Homo sapiens: one gene and its partner. The protein of the gene in region 2 interacts with the protein of the main gene of each other region in a pairwise test. Each region holds a gene or a part of one and is shown on either strand. Other genes may lie near its edges.

Region 1 (4,897 bases), on a different chromosome or scaffold from region 2:
ACAAAGCCTTACTCTGTCGCCCAGGCTGGAGTGCAGTGACACGATCTCGGCTCACTGCAACCTCTGCCTCCCAGGTTCAAGTGATTCTCCTGCCTCAGCCTCCTGAGTAGCTGGGACTACAAGCATGCACCACCATGCCCGGCTAATTTTGTATTTTTAGTAGAGACGGGGTTTCGCTATGTTGGCCAGGCTGCTCTCAAGCTCCTGATCTCAGGTGATCCTCCCGCCTCAGCCTCCCAAAGTGTTCAGATTGTAGGCGTGAGCCACTGTGCCTGGCATACTTTGGATTTTTTAAGGGAAAAAGGGAAAGGGAATCAGCTGGAGCCAGAACCAGTAATGACAATACCTGTAGGGATAAATTAATCCATAATTGTAAACTGTGAATCTATACTCACAGCAGTTCTTTTCTTTCAAAATATTTCTGCATTTCTGGGTTAGTTGTATAGGTCATAGTGCAATGCAATGTTTAATACACTAATTAGGATAAAGCAATTCACATTGAGCTTCCTAGCACACTACTGCTGAGCACTGTTATTCCTACTCTTGTTTGAGAGAAAATGTGGGGATTTTTGGTGCTCTCTTTAGATTATAAGCTTTTAATATTAAGATGATTTAATGGACCTTTTCTGAATTCTGAATTACTTTGTAGCTATGGCCATGCTCTGTTACCTGGTGAAGGTGCAGCTATGGCTGAATATGTAAAAGCTGGAAAACGTATCCCACGAAGAGGTGAAATTGGCTTGACAAGTGAAGAAATTGCATCATTTGAATGCTCAGGTTATGTAATGAGTGGTAGCAGGTATGTTGTTGGCATTAAGCTCAGTTTCCATGATTAGATCTTTTTCTTCTTTTTTACTACCAGAATTATATTTTGGTAATTGATTTTCATTAAGTGACTGTTTCTTATGAAAAGTAGAGTATAAATATTGGTTTGATATTAGTGTTGTTAGTATAACATGGTTTTCTGCAATTCCAAGTATATATGCAACTCAGCCTCAAACTCAGCTATATCTCTGACTTCAAAGAATCAATCTTCCTAATGTCCTTTCCTAGTTGGTATTTGCTTACAGATATTTTATCCACTGGAGGATATAGTTAAATTCAGCTATTTATCACTGCCCCATGAGGAATGTGGCAGTTAGGAAAATATTTTCACAAGACAGTGTTTCCTGGTTACAAGTTTGTCTTCAGTTTTTTATGGACCCAGATTTCTGAGACTGAATAACAGAAAAAGATGATAAAAGACATTGGTCAGCTGAGAATATATCCTGGCTAATAAATAAATGAATAAATAAATAAATTTTAAAAAGACACTGGATTCAGCATGGGAAATGAATATAAAATTAGGAAAGAGAAAAGTTCCAGGAAGAACCAGGAGAATGAGCAAATAGGGCAGCAGTACTTAGATCAAATTGAATTTTGGATTCTTTAAAACTTGATAAACTTTTTTTTTAAGTAGATAACTATTTTTAAATGACACTGAAGGCAAATATTTGCAGAAACCCTGAAGCACCTCCAGAATCTTGTAATACTGAGGACCAATATTTGAAGCATTGCATTGGAGGACCCACACAGTAAGGCAAGAAAAAGAAATTAGAGACACAAGGATTGGAAAGGAAGGCTGGGCACGGTGGCTCATGCCTGTAATCCCAGCACTTTGGGAGGCCAAGGCAGGCAGATCACTTGAGTCCAGGAGTTCAAGACTAGCCTGGGCAACATGGCGAAACCCTTCTCTACTAAAAACACAAAAATTAGCCAGACGTGGTGGTACACACCTGTAATCCCAGCTACTCAGGAGGCTGAAGCAGGAGAATCGCATGAACCCAGGAGGCGGAGGTTGCAATGAGCCAAGATCACACCACTGCATGCCAGCCTGGAGAGCAAAACTCAGCCTGAAAAAACAGTAATAATAATAATAAGGATTGGAAAGGGCGATATAACAATGTCATTTTTTAGCCAGGCGTGGTGGCTCACGCCTGTAATCCCAGCACTTTGGGAGGCATAGTTGGGTGGATCACCTGAGGTCAGGAGTTCAAGACCAGCCTGGCCAACATGGTGAAACCCTGTCTTTACCAAAAATACAAAAATTAGCTGGGCATGGTGGCGGACACCTGTAGTCCCAGCTCCTCAGGAGGCTGAGGCAGGAGAATCACCTGAATCCAGGAGGAGGTTACAGTGAGCCAAGATCGTGCCATTGCACTCCAGCCTGGGTGACAAGAGTGAAACTCCGTCTTAAAAAAAAAATGTCATTTTTTTGTGAATGACATGGTGAATGATTTGATTGTTTACATAGAAAATCCCAAAGAATCTCCAGATAAATTATAAATGAGAGGAGGGTTTAACAACTGGTTGGATATAAGGTTAGTACACAAAAATCCATTGCATTTCTATTTACCAGCAACAGACAACTAGAAAATGTAACTAAATAAGAAGAAAACATTTGTAATAGTATCAGAGAATATGAAGGACTTCAGAATAAATCTTAACAAAAGATGCCCAGGGCTCTGTGAGGAAAACTATAAAACATTATTAAGAGATTGTGTATTCAATACAGTTCCAATAAAAATGAACTGCATTTCTATTTACTAACAACAGAAACCTAGAACCTTGAACGTTTATAACAGTGTCAGAATATGAGAGACTTAAGAATAAATCTTAACAAAAGATGCCCAAGGTTCTATGGGGAAAAATGTAAGACATTAAGAGTCCATATCTTCAATATAGTTCCAATCAAAATCACAACACAGTTGTTTATGAGACTTATTAAGCTGGTTCTAAAATTTATATATTACACTAAAAGGACAAGAATAGCCAGGTCACTTCTGAAGAAGAAGAGCAAGAAGGTAAGATTAAAGAAAACTTAAATAGCTGGAGAGATACCAGGTTCACGGATAGGAAGGCAATATTGTAAAGTTGTCATTTCTTCCCAAATTGATCTTTATATTCAATACAGTCCCAATCAAAATCAGAACACAGTTTTTCATGAAACTTAATAAGCCAGTTCTAAAATTTATATACTAGACTAAAAGGACAAGAATAGCCAAGTCACTCCTGAAAAAGAAGAGCAGGAAGGTAAGATTTCCCCTACAAATAGGAGGACTTATTATGAAGCTTACAGCACTTTAGAAAGCATAGGAGAACAACTGAATTGTTCAGTGGAATAAAATTCAGGCCGGGCGTGGTGGCTCATGCCTGTAATCCCAGCACTTTGGGAGGCTGAGGCGGGTGGATCACCTGAGGTCAGGAGTTCAAGACCAGCCTGGCCAACATGGTGAAACCCCATCTCTACCAAAAATACAAAAATTAGCTGGGCGTGGTGGCTAGTGCCTGTAGTCCCAGCTACTTGGGAGGCTGAGGCAGGAGAATCGCTTGAACCCATGAGGTGGAGGTTGTAGTGAGCTGAGACCTCGCCATTGTACTCTAGTCTGGGCAACAAGAGCAAAACACTATCTCAAAAAAAAATAAAATAAAATTCAGAGCCCAAAGATAACCATACACGTATGGAACTTCAGTGTATGAAAGAGATAGCATGTCAGATCAATGGGGAAAGAAAGAACTATTCAGTACATGAAATAGGAGGCTGAGGCAGGAGAATCGGTTGAACCTGGGAGGCGGAGGTTGCAATAAGCCGAGATTATGCCACTGCACTCCAGCCTGGGTGACAGAGGGAGACTTGGAAGTTAAATCCACTGATAAAAACTGCTGTTCAATTACAGATTTAGACTTGGTTCTTTTTTTTTTTTTTTTTTTTTTGAGACCTAGTTTCACTCTTGTCTCCCAGGCTGGAGTACAGTGGCGCAATCTCAGCTCACTGCAACCTCCACCTCCTGGGTTCAAATGATTCTCCTGCCTCAGCCTCCCAAGTAGCTGGGATTACGGGTGCCCACCACCACACCCAGCTAATTTTTGTATTTTTAGCAGAGACGAGGTTTCACCACGTTGGCCAGGCTGGTCTTAAACTCCTGACCTCAGGTGACCTGCCTGCCTCAGCCTCCAAAAGTGCTGAGATTACAGGCGTGAGCCACCATGCCCAGCCTAGACTTGGTTCTTTTGGTTTTATGGTAAAGTAGAACCTTGAAGGAAGTTCCATCTGATTAATGACTAGTTAAATGTTTTATCTATCCTACTTCCAATTCCACAAAGGCAAATGGATATGTCACCTAGGAAGTTTAATAATTTGCCCATTTCTGATTGTTTTACTGGAAACAAATTAGACGTATACCCTTAGTATTTGAAATTAATGATAGCGGCCAGGCATGGTGGCTCACACCTGTAATCCCAGCACTTTGGGAGGCCAAGGCAGGTGGATCACCTGAGGTCAGGAGTTCGAAACCAGCATGGCCAACATGGCGAAACCCCATCTCTACTAAAAATACAAAAATTAGTCGGGCGTGGTGGCACACACCTGTACTCCCGGCTACTCGGGAGGCTGAGGCAGGGGAATCACTTGAGCCCAGGAGGCAGAGGTCGCAGTGAGCCAAGATTGTGCCACTGCACTCCAGCCTTGGTGACAGAGCCAGACTTTAAGACTCACAAAAAGGAGAAAAGAAAAAAGGATAGGCCAGGCGCGGTGGCTCACGCCTGTAATCCCAGCACTTTGGGAGGCCGAGGTGGGTGGATCATGAGGTCAGGAGATCGAGACCATCCTGGCTAACAAGGTGAAACCCCGTCTCTACTAAAAATACAAAAAATTAGCCGGGCGCGGTGGCGGGCGCCTGTAGTCCCAGCTACTGGGGAGGCTGAGGCAGGAGAATGGCGTGAACCCGGGAAGCGGAGCTTGCAGTGAGCCGAGATTGCGCCACTGCAGTCCGCAGTCCGGCCTGGGCGACAGAGCGAGACTCCGTCTCAAAAAAAAAAAAAAAAAAAATTAAAAAAAAAAAAAAAAGAAAAAAGGATA
Region 2 (5,588 bases):
GAATGGCGTGAACCCAGGGGCAGAGCTTGCAGTGAGCTGAGATAGCGCCACTGCACTCCAGCCTGGGTGACACAGTGAGACTCCGACTCAAAAAACAAAAACAAAAAACAAAAAAACCCAGTATTTTTCTTTAGCATACACACAAAATTCTTATAAAAAGTTTCTGCATCCTTCTCTACTTGGTTACATGGTACACATATTAATCACTGATAAGACAGTCCAGTCCAGAAGATGGGATCACCTGGTTCATTCAACCTTTGGCATATGCCTGCTACTAGGTGGCTTAGGATGGTAAAATACGTCCTTCAGCTAAACGCAGCTTCTGAGCTTACTGCCACTCCCCTCACCATCTAAGAGTAATACTGATGTACTATACCTTTGTAGGCCTCTCATTAAAGATGGTGGATTAGATTCATCTATTCCTAGTTTTTCTAGAAGGAATTCAACTACTCCTGGATTAACAAATCCCAAGGAACTCTGCATGACATTTTCATAGGACTCCAAAGAATTGCTATTTAGCTCAACACTTCTCCTTAAAAAAATACAAACACAAAAATTGTAAAATGACTAATTTGACATTCCATTTCTAGTAAAGAAATAATATCATTTGAGGTTTAAATACTAATTCCATTTTTTGCATAAGATGGTGTGGCAATATTATGATATGGTTTCCTTTTACCAAGTCTGAAGTAATTTAACCGTTATAAAAATGTGGTATTCCTCAATCCAAGAGACTTTTGTAATGAACTGTTGTTGAAATAATACGGATAAATTACCTGTAGTATAAAGGAAGCTCTTCAGAGCTAATTACACCTAATTTAATACCAGATAGGTGTGGTGGAAGAGAAGAGCTATACAGAGATACTGCTAGCTTTTCATGGTATCTGTCAATATCCTTGATTCCAGCTTAAGAAAAAAAAAAAGAGAACTAAGCTGATTAGTAAGAAAATGTAAACTAACATAAAAAATATAAACTTTCCCAAACACTACCCTCTTAGACTGTATTTTTTTAAATTAATAAAAACAAAAATTCAACAATCATTACTTTTTTATTAGTATGATGAAACTAATCACCTCGAATGATGTCACCAGTTTGGTAATATGATAAAGGATCCCCATGGTTACTGTGAGAAGGCACATCTCTTAAGGGACAAAGAGCCTGTAATGAGAAGTATTTTAAAACACCAGACATTTCAAGCTTTGATAAGAACAGTGTCTTCTTTTATCTTAGTTGTTTGGTATGAAACAGCTAGTAGTTGAACAACCTAAAGTAAAAATTTAAATAAGGATTTAGTTAAAAGTAATTTCCGTGTCCAAACACAGTAAAATATGTTTGCTGGTTCAGTTAAAAAACTAAAATCTCATGAAACTTTCCATTAGTTTAGGAACCAAATATGATGGCTTATGACAGTATACAACATGCATCAAAAACAAACTAAAATTTGTCTAAAAGGTATAAGGATTCCAGTGAAAATGAAATGCCAATTCTCCAAAGTATTTTGTCTGTTATCCAATCTGTAATACCTTCTGCTTTTCTTCCTTTTTATCTGCCTGGATAGATGGCAAATACCCAATCTTTTATCGTGACACATTAGTTTAAATTCAGGACTATCCATCTTGGGCAAAGTATCTTAATATAATGTACAAACCACTTACATTTAATTATTGTAAATATATAAATGAAACTTCTCTCCAAATTATCCACATGAAAATATACAATGCCAAATATTAACTAATTAAGAATACATATGTTCAACTACAAGAAATAAGTCTGAATATCAATCAACCTCACCACGTCCACTGATACCTCTTTGAGCATTTAGAAAAGAACACTGTGCCTGCCAACCAGTTTAAATTTAAAAAATCCCAAAAACCAGAAATGGAGGGAGAAACTGGGTAACTTACACTAATTTTTTTAAACTATTTTTCTCCAATTAACATTTAATTTCCAAAAGCATCTTGGCAGGTATACTTGAGCACAACTGCATGCAAAGATATAGTTCTTGCATTGAGATGCGTTAACAAAAACAGAAGCAATCCAAGTAACAAAAATAACTTACTGTGATTTCTAAGTGGGCTATATCTCTCATGATACCACTTCCTAAACAGATCAACACCATGAAAAAACCGAATTCCCGAATAGAACTAATTCTTCCAATCACTATATCACCACGCTCAATATCTCGGAAAAACAGCTCTCTCCGATCCATACTAGGTATCTCCATGAATTGCTCTAAAGGTGGCATGATTGCATAATGATCTAAAAAAAAAAAATTAACAAAATCACTAACGATAGTTTTGAGTTCCGTTTCACCTGAAGTACTGTTAAACCGAACCGCAATCTTAAAGATTTTAAGGCTAAACTGACCTTCACTGTCTTCATTAATTTCAGAAGTTGCAGGTGCATCTGATTTCCAGGAAAGTGCAAAAAGCAGATCCGCTTTTTTGGAGATGAATTTCTGTATCTCGATGTTGTCAACTCTCTTCTCTTTTCTTAAAAAGAAAAAAATATATATGAAAATTGGGTTATCTGCAAAGCCTCTTTACTTCTAACCTTCTGCTTATGGCTTTCATCGCCCATTCCGCTCCATCCTAAGCTGCAGACAATACAACCTCAGACAAAAAGTTTTAACTAGGCATTCCCTCATTAACCAACCTGGAGGTGGAGAGCGGGGAAACTTAAAAAGTGACGCCTCCAACTCAGATAGGAAAGCTCAAGGGATTTTTAGCTAAGGAATCTGCGCCTCTACCAAGCAGTGCCAGAGAAAAAGTTCAGCCCGCATCCCGCATTGCACAACCCAGGAGCGCCCCCCGTCCACCCAGCCCAAGACACCAGCGCGCGATCGTCCTGTGCTCACGGCCGCGGCTCCACTTCCTCTAGACGCAAACCCGGGGCTGCGGTAGTGGCTGCCAGAGCTGCGTCCCCTCTTCCGTGGCGCAGTGGCACCAACGTCTCATTACCTGCCCTGCAACGGGTGCTGGGGCGGCGGGCCCCGGGCTGGCTCGGCGGCCGACCCCAGGAGGCTACGGAAGTGTGGATTGTCCTGCTGTTCGCTCCGAAGTAGAGAGAGCAAAGACGACCCGTGGCAATTTAGCGACTGCCGCAAAAGGTCCCGGTCCATGGCTAGAGAATGCAGGGCCCGGAGGCCGACGGGCTGATAGTTCCCTGTTCCGTGTCCGCTACTTGAGCCGGGTGGTACAGGAAGCGGAAGAAACTGTCTGGAGGCTGCCGGAAGTACACAGACAGCACAACCAGTTACACCCGGAAGTGTTCTGGGGTCGCCCCCACGGCGGCGCGGCGGAGCTCAGCCTCGATCTCGCGAAACCGAGCGAGACTACGGAAGGCCGAAGGATTGGGCTCAGCATTGCTTGGGCTAAAGGCTGACTAGGGCTTCCAGGAAGTGATGTATGTGAGAAGTTTGCTTTTTAAAGTGTACGTGGGATCGTTATTACGTCGAAATAGCTCGAGCTGTAACCTAGGGTAAATAATAATTCCTTTTCGTATTCATCAAGGTGCTTCTAAGTGCCAGTGCCAGGGTAAGAACCCTATACGAGTCTCCAAGCTTCTTCCCTCGACGTACTCTCTGCGTAAATCAATACCTGTGTCTCTGGCGTAACCCCATTCAACCGGCTGCTCCGGGAAGGTTTCCAGGTGGTTTTAAGGGCAGAAGAAAGGAAGGACACGGACATTTGTTAAGCACCTGGAGTGGTGTTCTCCATCCATACCCCATTTACTGTTAGTGATTGTGAATTCTAAAACCAGGATGGCTTTAATGTCTCCACACGTGCATATGCCATTCAAGTTTTACAATAACTAATGAACACATGCATTTCTTATTTAGTTTATCTCAATGGTTGCTCAAAATTTAGTGTCTGTGGGACTTACTGTATAGTGGTATGTACGCAAAAGTCAATATACTGTTCTTATGGACAATTCAAGTGATTTTCAAAGGGAATTTCAACTTAGGTCCCCCATCCCCTTACTTACTGACTTGAGAACCTAACCACTATGGTAGCTATTGTACTTTTTCATTTTAGAAAACGAGGAAACATGCTCAGAGAGTCCCAGTAAATTGCTCAATGGCACACAGCTAGTAAGAGGCTAGAGTTAGGATTCCAAACGAAGTATTAATTGGTCTTCTCAGGCAGAGTTGCTGGATTGAGTATTTTATCATATGGAAGGTCTAACTAACCCTAATTTTGAGATCATGTAGCTTCGTTTTATTCCAGTATAAAATTTGTACCATTTAAATATGTTCAGTGTAAATAGTTCAGTATAGTCCTCTTGAACAGAAATAAACGGTGACAGTTAGTCTCTCCACTTCCCACCATGTGTCTTTGAGGAAATCAACTTGCCTTTCACTGTGTTACCACTTTTGTATAGGAGATCTAGCCCAGAACATAATCGATACTGCCACACTGTTTTGTGGAAAACCCAGGCAAATAGGTAAACAGTTTGAGACTTGAGAAAATGCAACAAACAAGAATGCAACTGTAAAAGATAAATTTGGGTTAGGCACGGTGGCTCACACCTGTAATCCCAGTACTTTGGGAGGCCGAGGGTGGATCACTTGAGGTCAGGAGTTCAGAGACCAGCTTGGCCACCATGGCCTAACCCCGTCTCTACTAAAAATACAAAAATTAGCCGAGCGTGGTGGCTCATGCCTGTAGTCCCAGCTACTCGGGAGGCTGAGGCACGAGAATCTCTTGAACTCCGGAGGCGGGGGTTGTAATGAACTGAGATCGCGCCACGGCAGTCCAGCTTGGGCGCCGGAGGGAGACTCCGTCTCAATAAATAAATAAATAAATAAATTTCAAGCTTCTATAGGCATATCAACTTTAATAAATGGTACAGACTGACTTGTTTTAAGCCATAACTCTAGAGAATGGTTGTTTTTAGGAAAGAGTGCTGTCACTGAAAAGGAAAGCTGACCACTAAAAATTATTATAGACATCTTGATAAGTATGTGATTTGTGTTAGAGTCAATCTGTGATCAAGGACCTCATTTTTTGGAGGGACTAAGAAACCGGTGTCTGAGAACCAGACACCAAATAGTGTTACTTAGCCTGGGAATGTCACCTTCTGAGGCCATTCTTCAGTAGCACATGGTTTTATCACTATGGGATCTGTCTATACTTCTTCCTAATTCCAACACTAGGATAACCCTCCCCCACCTCATACCTTGAACATCTGAAATGGCCGTGAACATAGAAAGCAGCTCCTTTTAGGGGGTAAACAGCATTTATCAAGAGTGATATTTTTCGTATAGTAGTGACAGAAGAAATGCACTTTAAGCAAATGTACTCAAAACTCAGCGTGGGATTTTCTGTCTTTGGTTAGTTCCTTATGTGAAAGTAGCCACATTAGTTGGGTGCCGAAGGCAGTCTTATTCTTTACTTCCGGAATACTACTCCCATTGCAGAGGATAAAGCCTTTTACAATTACAGGTGTATTTGAGTTCATTTTCTTTTGAGACAGACACCCCTTTGACTTTGAAGGGGACAGGGCACTGGATCTTTGACATGGGATTGGAGGGAGTGAGGAAAGGAAATGGGACTAGGTTTGCTTCTCATTTTAGAAAAACTAG

What was found. Proteins that work in one complex are often made in the same cells at the same time.
Region 1: the proteins of TTC14 (region 2) and NKAP interact in a two-hybrid assay, tested with the Homo sapiens proteins (one large-scale study listed by BioGRID and IntAct).

What each region holds. Positions count from the first base shown.
Region 1 is NC_000023.11:119,925,918-119,930,814, reverse strand, and holds part of NKAP (NF-kappa-B-activating protein), read left to right. Parts: intron 1-649; coding exon 650-799; intron 800-4,897. UniProt on the Homo sapiens protein: Acts as a transcriptional repressor. Plays a role as a transcriptional corepressor of the Notch-mediated signaling required for T-cell development. Also involved in the TNF and IL-1 induced NF-kappa-B activation.
Region 2 is NC_000003.12:180,599,796-180,605,383, reverse strand, and holds the start of TTC14 (tetratricopeptide repeat protein 14), read right to left. Parts: upstream 3,222-5,588; 5' UTR 3,123-3,221; coding exon 2,962-3,122; intron 2,494-2,961; coding exon 2,369-2,493; intron 2,261-2,368; coding exon 2,061-2,260; intron 1,160-2,060; coding exon 1,075-1,159; intron 907-1,074; coding exon 777-906; intron 533-776; coding exon 377-532; intron 1-376.